Homo sapiens: one gene and its partners. The protein of the gene in region 3 purifies or fractionates together with the protein of the main gene of each other region. This does not show direct contact. Each region holds a gene or a part of one and is shown on either strand. Other genes may lie near its edges. The genes, in order: HELZ, PAN2 and EBF3.

The links.
Region 1: the proteins of EBF3 (region 3) and HELZ purify together in Homo sapiens (affinity purification with mass spectrometry, with the first as the bait; one large-scale study listed by BioGRID). This does not show direct contact.
Region 2: the proteins of EBF3 (region 3) and PAN2 purify together in Homo sapiens (affinity purification with mass spectrometry, with the first as the bait; one large-scale study listed by BioGRID). This does not show direct contact.

What each region holds. Positions count from the first base shown.
Region 1 is NC_000017.11:67,235,134-67,238,784, reverse strand, and holds part of HELZ (probable helicase with zinc finger domain), read left to right. Parts: intron 1-3,651. UniProt on the Homo sapiens protein: May act as a helicase that plays a role in RNA metabolism in multiple tissues and organs within the developing embryo.
Region 2 is NC_000012.12:56,320,441-56,324,091, reverse strand, and holds part of PAN2 (PAN2-PAN3 deadenylation complex catalytic subunit PAN2), read left to right. Parts: coding exon 1-43; coding exon of another isoform or gene 44-55; intron 56-178; coding exon 179-285; intron 286-493; coding exon 494-592; intron 593-707; coding exon 708-781; intron 782-882; coding exon 883-1,030; intron 1,031-1,333; coding exon 1,334-1,477; intron 1,478-1,609; coding exon 1,610-1,669; intron 1,670-1,923; coding exon 1,924-2,014; intron 2,015-3,651. UniProt on the Homo sapiens protein: Catalytic subunit of the poly(A)-nuclease (PAN) deadenylation complex, one of two cytoplasmic mRNA deadenylases involved in general and miRNA-mediated mRNA turnover.
Region 3 is NC_000010.11:129,835,272-129,838,922, reverse strand, and holds part of EBF3 (transcription factor COE3), read left to right. Parts: intron 1-962; coding exon 963-980; coding exon of another isoform or gene 981-994; 3' UTR 995-3,651. UniProt on the Homo sapiens protein: Transcriptional activator. Recognizes variations of the palindromic sequence 5'-ATTCCCNNGGGAATT-3'.

The DNA of each region.
Region 1 (3,651 bases), on a different chromosome or scaffold from region 3:
TATTACACTTAGAAAATGGTAATACTACAGAAATAAATTAGAAGGCTTTTAATACTTTCCTTATGAGGCATCAGAGTTAAAATTATTATTATTTTTTTGAGACGGAGTTTCGCTTTTGTCACCTAGGCTGGAGTGCAATGAATGGCACGATCTCGGCTCACTGCAACCTCCGCCTCCTGGGTTCAAGCAATTCTCCTGCCTCAGCCTCCTGAGTAGCTGGGATTACAGGCGCCCGCCACCATGCCCAGCTACTTTTTGTATTTTTAGTAGAGCCAGGGCTTTACCATGTTGGCCAGGCTGGCCTCAAACCCCTGACCTCAGGTGATCCACTCGCTTCGGCCTCCCAAAGTGTCAGGATTACAGGCGTGAGCCACCGCACCCGACCTAAAATTATTTTTAAATTAATTTTCTTCCTTTTTTTTTTTTTTTTTTTTTGAGAGACAGAGTCTTGGCAGTGTCGCCCAGGCTGGAGTGCAGTGGTGCAATCTCAGCTCACTGCAACCTCTGCCTCCCAGGTTCAAGCGATTCTCCTTACCTTAGCCTCCCAAGTAGCTGGAATTATAGGTGCCTGCCACCATGCCTGGCTAATTTTTTTGTATTTTTAGTAAAGACGGGGTTTCATTATGTTGGCCAGGCTGGTCTCAAACTCCTGACCTCATGATCCACCTGCCTTGGCCTCCCAAAGTGCTGGAATTACAGGTGTGAGCCACCATGCCTGGCCATGAATTTTCAGTACTTGTCTTTTGTGAGATATCTTCATCCGCAAAAAGCTTCAGGTCTTTTTTTTTTTTTTTTTGAGATGGAGTCTTGCTTTTGTTGCCCAGGCTGGAGTGCAATGGGGCGATCTCAGCTCACTGTAACCTCTGCCTCTTGGGTTCAAGTGATTCTCCTGCCTCAGCCTCCCAAGTAGCTGGGACTATAGGTGTGCGCTACCACGCCTGACTAATTTTGTATTTTTACTGGAGATGGGGGTTCACCATGTTGGTCAGGCTGGTCTCGAACTCCTGACCTCAAGTGATCCACCCGCCTTGGCCTCCCAAAGAGCTGGGATTACAGGTGTGAGCCACTGTGCCGGGCTAGCTTCAGCTCTTAATAAAATGACTTTCCATCCTCCCTTTTGCACTCTGGCTAAGACTTAAAAGAATATCTCCAGCTATTTTTTTACTCATCTGGTTTAAGCTGGACTTTTTAGCTTTGTGTTTTTTGTAGTTAAAAAAAAAATCTATCTACATTTTGCTTTTAATTGTTCTCAGGTCTCCTGGCCCCTGGTTCTTTGATTGTCTGAGTCCACACTGCCTTTTAACTGATACAGTCCACTGCTAAGTCAGCAAGTTAGCCTTGAGAATCCCAGAGACTTTAATGTGGCAATATTGTATATTTTTAGGGTTTACAGTGAAACTTGGGCTGACTACTTGCTGATTGGTTAAAGTAATAAATAAGTAAATTGTTAAAGTAATAAATGTTAAACTAATAAATAAATCAAAAAAATTGTTTTTTTTCGAGACAGAGTCTCACTCTGTCGCCCAGGCTGGAGTACACTGGTGGGATCTCGGCTCACTGCAACCTCTGCCTCCTGGGTTCAAGCGATTCTCTTGCCTCAGCCTCCCTAGTAGCTTGGGACTTTGCCATGTTGGTCAGACTGGTCTCGAATTCCTGACCTCAGGTGATCCACCCGCCTTGGCCTCCCAAAGTGCTGGGATTACAGGCGTGAACCACTACGCCCGGCCAGGTTCTTTGTTTCTTGAGTGTTCGCTTGTTTTGCATGATTTGTCTCCCACGGGTTCATAGGGATGATCAGAGGACCAATTGAGGCAGTTGGCTGGTCCTTGAAAAACTGGGGTTTGGGTTAGTATAGGTCATCATGACCAAGGAGAGTATGAAAACACTCAGTCAAGGCCAAAGTGAGCAGTAGAAGGGAGGGGTGGTCCTTTTGAGACTTTATCAAGCTTGTGTCCTGGAACCCCTTCATTTCCTTGGTAGGGTAGAACTTTATTATTTAATGTTGAATAAATTGATAATAAATAAATTGTTAAATGTTGGGTTATTATCCTAAGACAATTGATTTTCTTTTTGGCATTTCATTTCAAAATATACATTTTAAAATTCATTTTAAATTATGATACATTATAGTTTGATTTTTAAAAACTTACTATATCATGAAACATTTACATCTTATAGATTTTATAATTTAACTTTATATATTGAAAGGCTGCAAAAATAATTTCATCAAGTCATGCTACAATTTACCTAAGTCTTTTTATGTGAAGTATTTATACTGCTGTCTGGGTGGTTTTCAGTTAACACTTTAATCTACATCATTGTAGATACTGTTGCATTTTTTCTAATGATATCTTAAGGATAAATTTTGGAGTGTGTTATTATGTTAAGGGGTATCAGTGTTTTTATGGCTCCTCACATATATTGTCCTACTGTTTTCAAGGGTGTTATACCAGTTTGTGCTCCTAACAGATATATGGATATACCTGTTTTACCATAAGTAGTAGAGAAAACCATTTTTCTTCAGAAGTTTTTGTGAATTTAATAGTGTAAAATGGCACTTTCATTTCTTTGTTATATAATGTTGAATTTAACTATTTGAGCCTCTTTATGGTGAACTGTTTGTTGATATCAGTTGCTATATTATGCAATTAACTATTGTAGGCTTTGAATGGTAAGGCTGGTATAATATGGTCAGTAAAAATTGTTCACAAGAGTGTGTGGTCGAGGCTGGGTGCAGTGGCTCACGCCTGTAATCCCAGCACTTTGGGAGGCCAAGGCGGGCGGATCAGGAGGTCAGGAGATCGAGACCATCCTGGCTAACACGATGAAACCCCGTCTCTTCTAAAAATACAAAAAATTAGCCGGGCGTGGTGGCAGGTGCCTGTAGTCCCAGCTACTCGGGAGTCTGAGGCAGGAGAATGGTGTGAACCCGGGAGGTGGAGCTTGCAGTGAGCCGAGATAGAGATAGCACCACTGCGTACAGCCTGGGCAAAAGAGGGAGACTCCGTCTCAAAAAAAAAAAAAAAAAAAAAAAAGAGTGTGTGGTCAAAATGGTAAATGATCTTGGGAAGAGTGTTTGAAGGGGAACAGATGGATTATTCCAGGATTCAGTTCAGCAAGTATTTATTGGGCATCTGCTGTGAGCCCCTTTGTATCACTGCTCCTCTGAGTGGTTCTCAAGTTCTTGTGATGGCATGTGCTGGGTTGAAGCAGGACACTGCTTGAGGCTTGACCATTTGTGGGTTCTGGCTTCTGTTGTCTCTCTCTTTTTTTTTTTTTTGTGAGGGAGTCTCGCTCTGTTGCCCAGGCTGGAGTACAGTGACACGATCTCGACTCACTGCAGCCTCCGCCTCCCTGGTTCAAGTGATTTTCCTGCCTCAGCCTCCTGAGTATCTGGGATTACAGGTGCGCACTACCATGCCCTGCTAATTTTTGTATTTTTAGTAGAGACGGGGTTTCACCATGTTGTTCAGGCTGGTCTTGAACTTCTGACCTCGTGATCCACCCGCCTTGGCCTCCCAAAGTGCTGGGATTACAGGTGTGAGCCACCGCGCCCGGCCTTCTGTTGTCTCTTTGTGGCTGCTTGGATTGCTGAGAAGACCACCACTGTCTAGGCCATCTTTAACTCATTCAGGGCATACCAGTGTGCCA
Region 2 (3,651 bases), on a different chromosome or scaffold from region 3:
CGAGCCTCATCCACTCTGCTTTTCACACTCTCCTACCCTGATGGTAGCAAAAGTGGTATACCCTTCAGCTCAGTTGGGAAGGCTCCCCAAAATGTCCTGTAATATCAGGGAGAGGGTGTTGGGGACTAACTGTGGGTAGAGGGGAGAACCAGGAGTATAGCATCTAATTTTCCCTCAGATAAAACTGGGAAGAACTATGACTTTGCTCAGGTGCTGAAGCGAAGCATCTGCCTGGACCAGAATACACAGGCCTGGTGTGACACCTGTGAAAAGTACCAGCCCACGGTGAGTGGACTGTTGGACTGGACTAGAGTCCTGGTCCTGCCATGGAGATTCAGCCACTATCCCATGTGGGGCTGGCTCTGTCAGCACTGCCATCCAGGGATCTCTGGTGGAGTGAGGAATCCCAGTTTGAAGACGCAGACCCAGGTCCCTGTCCAGACTCCTTTTCCTGTACATTCCCTGCCATTCCTTGTTTGTTTCTTCCTCTCAGATTCAGACCCGCAACATCCGCCATCTGCCAGATATTCTTGTCATCAATTGTGAGGTGAACAGCTCAAAAGAGGCTGATTTCTGGAGAATGCAGGCTGAGGTAAGGACTCAGACTAGAAACAAGGCTTCCGGAATAATTTTTCATTTTATCCCCCTTCTGACCTCCATATATGATTACATTCCTGAAGAACTGGATGTTTTTCTTCTGTGTTCAGGTTGCCTTCAAGATGGCAGTAAAGAAACACGGTGGGGAAATCTCCAAGAACAAGGAATTTGCTTTGGCTGATTGGTAGGTGCTGTCTTGGGAGTTGTCAAAGGATTGAATTGCCCAGTGGTTCCTCTTATCAAGACCTCTTTCGGAACAAATTTCCAATTCTTCTGACCTGATAGGAAGGAACTAGGGAGTCCAGAGGGTGTGCTGGTGTGTCCCTCCATTGAGGAGTTGAAGAACGTCTGGCTTCCTTTCTCCATTCGCATGAAGATGACCAAAAACAAAGGGCTGGATGTTTGCAATTGGACTGATGGGGATGAGATGCAGGTTGTTGAAAAACCGGGAAGAGGAAAGGGAATAAGGGAGAGAAGGTGGGGCAGAAGGTAAAGGAGGGCAGGGGAAGGTGAAACTTAGCAGAGGGAAAAGGAAGAGAATAAGGCCTAGTATTTACCTGTTAGGGGATTTTCCATAGTCACTCAGTTCAGTGTTGGGGTCCTAGATGGGCTAGGATGGAGATAACCCACCCTGGTCCCCCATCCCCCATACCCCCAACTCCCTGTCCTCTGTCCCCATTCCCCTCCCTTCCCCATCCTTAAACTTAGCTTAGCAGCCTGGGTACCCCCCTCACAGTGGGGCCCAGCCAGGGCAGAGGAGGAGCATGGTGTCTATGTGTATGACCTGATGGCTACTGTGGTACACATCCTGGACTCACGCACAGGGGGCAGCCTGGTGGCTCACATCAAAGTTGGAGAGACCTACCACCAGCGCAAGGAGGTGAGTGAGGTTGTAGAGGGCAGGAACACTCCTGGGATGGCCACAGTGAGTCCCAGATCTGTCCTTGAGTCTGAGACAGAGTGGTCCAGCCATCAATTTGTATCGCCACAGGCTTTCTTTGTATTTCCATAGGGCGTTACTCACCAGCAGTGGTATCTGTTCAATGACTTTCTTATTGAACCTATTGATAAGGTTAGTTGCAACATGTTCTGTTTCTTCTTTCATTTCCCCTTTTCCTAGCATCCTTATCTTTAGGGCTCTATAGAATGCCAGGCAGATTCAACAGGGAGGGAGGAAGGAATCCTCAGGAATAAAAACCATTAGCACTTAAAAATAGCACCTGAAAAAAAACAAAAACTAGCACCTGAGTCCTGGCCTCCGTCTGAAGTGGGGGAAAAGGAAAAGGGTGATATACATTAGCCATAAGTGCTTTTTCTCTTCTATAGCATGAAGCTGTGCAGTTTGACATGAATTGGAAAGTACCTGCAATCCTTTATTATGTCAAACGGAATCTCAATTCCAGATACAACCTGAACAGTAAGTGCTACATAGTAGACCCAAGTGTGTGGACAGTTTAGATTGGGCTTCAGGGTGAGATCTGGGACATTGCTTGCAAGTACTTAGGATTGGTAACCAGTGTTAATATTTCTGGAGATACTAAAGAGATTCCTGCTCATCAGACCTTAAATTTAGAAGTGCGAAATCCAGCCTGAGCAACATAGCAAGATCCCATCTCTTTGAAAAAAAATTTTTTTTTTTTTTTTGAGATGCAGTCTTGCTCTGTCACCCAGGCTGGAGTGCAATTGCGCAATCTCGGCTCACTGCAACCTCTGCCTCCTGGGTTCAAGCGATTCTCCTGCCTCAGCCTCCTGAGTAGCTGGGATTACAGACGCCCACCACCACACCCGGCTAATTTTTTTGTATTTTTAGTAGAGACAGGGTTTCACCATGTTGGTCAGGCTGGCCTCGAACTCCTGACCTCATGATCTGCCCGCCTCAGCCTCCCAAAGTGCTGGGATTACAGGCGTGAGCAACTACACCCAGCCTAAAAAAATTTTTTTTTTTTTTTTAATTAGCCTAGTATAGGCCAGGCACAGTGGCTTATGGCCTGTAATCCCAGCATTTTGGGAGGCTGAGGCGGGCAGATCACTTGAGCTCAAGAGTTCAAAACCAGTTTGGGCAACATGGTGAAACCCTGTCTCTACAAAAAATACAAAAAGTAGCTGGGTATGGTGATGTGCTCCTGTTGTCCCAGCTACTTGGGAGGCTGAGGCAGGAGAATCACTTCAGCCTGGGAGTCAGAGATTTCAGTGAGTCAAGATTGCATCATTGCACTCCAGCCTGGGTGACGAGAGTGAAACCCTGTCTCAAAAAAAAAAAAAAAAATTTAGCTGAGTGTGGTGGCATATACTTGTGGTCCCAGCTATTGGAGAAGCTGAGGCGGGAGGATCACTTGAGCCCAGGAGGTCAAGGCTGCAGTGAGTGAGCCATGATTGCACCAGTGTACTCCAGCCTGGGCAACAGGATGAGACTGCTTTTTTTTTTTTTTTTGGACAGAGTTTCACTCTTGTCACCCAGGCTGGAGTGCAATGGCACAATTTTGGCTCACTGCGACCTCCACCTCCCGGGTTCAAGCAGTTCTCCTGCCTCAGCCTCCCGAGTAGCTGGGACTACAGGCACCTGCCACCATGTCCGGCTAATTTTTTGTATTTTTAGTAGAGACAGGGTTTCACCATGTTGGCCAGGTTGGTCTTGAACTCCTGACCTCGTGATCCACCCTCCTTGGCCTTCCAAAGTGCTGGGTTTACAGGCGTGAGCCACAGTGCCCAGCCTGAGACCCTGTCTTAAAAAAAAAAAAAAAAAAAAAAAGCAGCTGTAAGTCTTGAGAGTGGAGTGGAAATGAGATGAGGGGGGGATGTTTGATCAGAATGGCTTAGGTTATGATGTTACATCTAATTATTCTTTTTTTTGAGACAGAGTTTCGCTCTTGTTGCCCAGGCTGGAGTGCAATGGCATGATCTCAGCTCACTGCGACCTCTGCCTCCCGGGTTCAAGCGATTCCCCTGCCTCAGCCTCCCAAGTAGCTGGGATTACAGGCATGTGCCACCACGCCCGGCTAATTTTTTTTTGTGTCTAATTAGTAGAGACGGGGTTTCACCATGTTGGGCAGGCTG
Region 3 (3,651 bases):
CACGGGGTCGGGCCGGCTGAAAGACGGCACCTCCTACGCGGTGTGTACGCACAGGGCTTCCAAACCGTAAAGTTGTAACGGTGAGTCGGAGATAAATTAATATTGTTGAAATTAATGAACTGAGAAATTGAAGCTCACGTCACTACATGAACAAATGTATTAATATGTTATACATAAATTAATGAGAACGATCATTCTGACAAAAATTAAACAACACCAGCGGTAAAAGATTTTAAATTACATTCGTACCAGGAGTTCATGTGAAAGCGTCAGCCCCACTTGGCGTTTTCGTGCAAAGTTTTCTCTTCTTTCCTGAGAAGAGAAAAAAGGTCCCGAGGCGGTGCCATGACTCACGTCTCTCCGTGGCCCTTGCCTGGAGGTTCCAGGGCAGGTGGGCTGTGAGTGGCTTTGATTCTGGAGAGCCCCTGACTCACCATTACGATACAGAGAGATGACCGCACGGTCAGAGCCCAGACCTGGAAGCAGAGGGGGAAACTGAGGCCAGTCTGGTTCTCACATAGGGAGCGAGAGCAGGGCCTGTGAGCCGGCCTTGACTGGCGTCACGGGAGTGACCAGGCTGGGTCACCTCTCTCGACAGAGGGGGCTCCGGGCCTCCGTTGGCTTTGCACCTGTTGGCAGTGCACCGGTCAGTGTGGGGAAGCTGCAGCCTCTGCACACAGCAGTGCCAGGAGCCCTTCCCTTTTCCAAAAGAAGCCTTTAAAGAAGCCTTTGAGGAGGGCTGCAGGAGGGGCAGGACTGGGGGTTGTTGTCCCCACGTGTGCCCCCACCTCAGGAAGCAGATTCCCCAGCACGCCCTAACCACGCCCGAGGCTGGTGGACGGAACTGTGCAAGACCAGCCTCCCAGTTGAATAGGGGGGAAGGGCAGCCCCGCCCGCGTCAGCGTTGGCGGGAGGGCGCGTGGGGGAGCCTGCAGTAACTGCTCTGTCCTTCTGTCTTGCAGCTATGTCTGGGCTGGTAGTCCCGCCAATGTGAGGGACTTCTGTTTACCTTCCGCAGCACCCAGCATCAAAGGACGGACTTCAGGGGACACGTTTAGTATATTAAGACATGCTGATGGAAACAGTATCTTCAAAAAAATCAGCAGCAATTGAAATGCTACAAAAGACTTTGTTTAAAGATTTTATTTAAACTATTAAGAATCAACATGCAAACAGCCTACTTCTTCATGAACAATTCCATTTTATTGACTGAACTTTTCTCATATTTTCACATTTCTCAGTCCTGAAGAATAAGGAAAACAAAGCGACGCCTATTTTGTATAAAGTTTCCGACTCCGTCTTGGCCATGTCTAGTAATTGCTATGTGTTGGGAGAAACTTTGTGAATGCACCATTTTGATGATCATGAAACGCTGATGAAAAATGCCTCCAAACATTTTTCTGTACTCATACTTAGATTCACAATGGTTGTGTATCTCTATAATGTGAAATATTTTTTTGTGGTGATAAAAAGAGGGCCAAGGAGGTATGAGCCATCAGACTGGAAAAAAGGATGACTATATGATGAGGAGAAACTGGGGTGGCAGGGAGGGAGGGAGGGTTTATCACTGCTTAACTTCATCTTCATGAAATGAAACTTTGTAACTTATTGTAGTTAGAAATTGTAACTTTGATATTGAATTCTCTTGCCTTCAACAAGCACACTGACAGAGAAAAAATGCTACTGTCTGTTGGTTCCAATATTCTCCCACTGCTAGAGCTTCCTGTTAAGCAAGTGTGATCTGCAACATTTTTTCAACTTTTGCTAGCACTGTATACTATTGCATTCTTAGGCTACTGTGAGGTCTATGTTTCTTGTACCAGAAATTGTCCTTTTGACTTCTAGATCCTTCTTCCCTAATGTGTTTTGTATGTGGTTATAAAATTGTAGACTTTTGTGATTTTGCCAAAGTTGTAGCTAAATATTTATACACTTGTCTTGAATTTTTTTCAGATCCACTTAAAATATTTAGAAAAACAAGTTTTATTCCTTATGTGTCTTATAAGGAATAAAATGGTCTTCATTTGACACTTACTTTCCCATGAACACTTGCAGTTGCTAAGGGACTTTATTTTGTAACATATCAATTATAAATATTGTATTTATCTTTGAAATTTTGTACATTGCTTTTCCCACCTTTTCCTTTTTCTTCTTTCTTGTCTGTATTGGTTTTTGATCACGGCCTGGTGTTGTGATACTGGGAAGAGCATTAGCCAAGAACTTGTCTCTTTGATCTGTTTCGTTAAGCTGAACCAGTGTCTTTACATTTCATTTGTACTTCAAAAAATATGCTATTGTTTAGACTTTCCATCCTTTTTTTTTTTATTTTGAGGAAAAGTCAAATTCATTGTTTATTTTTATATTATTTTTAAGTTATCTGAACAAATACTTTTGAAAAAAAAGTTTGTTGTATAGTCAAAACAAATCGGTGCCACCCGGCCGTGACAAATCCTAGTAGATTCTGTGCATGTGGAGCGGCCGCGAAGAGGTGACACCGTTTGGGGCTGTGTCCTTATTTTATTTTATTTTTTTGTAGAATGTAAAAAGTCATTTTAGATGCCACCCATTGACTTTGCCACATAGCTGAACTGTGTTTACTGGAAAAATTCAGAGGCCTAAAGTTTAAAATAAAATTTACTTCTGATGTTTTAATTAAAATGTTTGCCACATTAACTTTTCTGATGCCTTAAAAGTGAACTTCTTTAAAGAACCTTTGTGCTATTTTATCACAGGCTTACACTACAATTGTTAATAAATACTTCATTTGGAGATGTATGGTGTAAAACACACAAACACACACAAAAAAGCACAAGCCCGCTGCATGACCCGTCTCTCCTTTCTGGGACTATTTCTGCTGCGTCCTGCACCCTCCTGGGCCCACCTCCGATTCACAGAGGTTTCAGGGGGACCCAAATCACTGCTGGTTTTCAATTTTTTTTTAACAATACATTTTTGTGGTCAGTTCCAACAGCACTGTCCGTACTTTTAAAACTGGAATGACCTCCTTCAGATATCGTGCCTCTTAGTGCCAAACCCACAGTGAGACCAAAAGTGTCAGGTGTTTTTTTTTTTTTCTTTCTCCTTTGCACTAAGTGCTTTGCAGACACGGCACAGCAAACATTTTGCAAACTGCAGCAGAAATCGAATTTAAAACAAAAAGGAGGGACTTTAAAATACCTTCTTGACAAAAATCAACAATGCACAACTTACAAAGTGTTCATTCTAGGGACAAAATTAAATAAACAGAATGTCCCCAGGAGTCAGCAGGTCACAGTCTGGCTTTGTGATGGTTGACAAGGTCTAGCTACATGGGAAAGCCTGAGAAGTCACTTTGGAACTAAATTGCCTCCATTTTATTTTGTACGAGTAAGGGTTTGATCTACAAAAGAGCTCACATGGACGCACTGAGAACGCCTGCCAGCTTCCCCATGCCCTCACTTGGTTTGTGTTTTAGGTTAAGTAGTCAATGCCCACATCACTTCACTGTCTCAAGACTGAGCACTTCACTAAATGGTAGATTTTACTGTTAAAGACCCTACAATAAGATTGTTTTATCTGTACATTTTTTCAGATATTTAACTGTATAAAAATGTTCATTTTACACAATATTTAATTAAAGTATTTCTTGTCTGTGAATTTCACTTTTGGTAA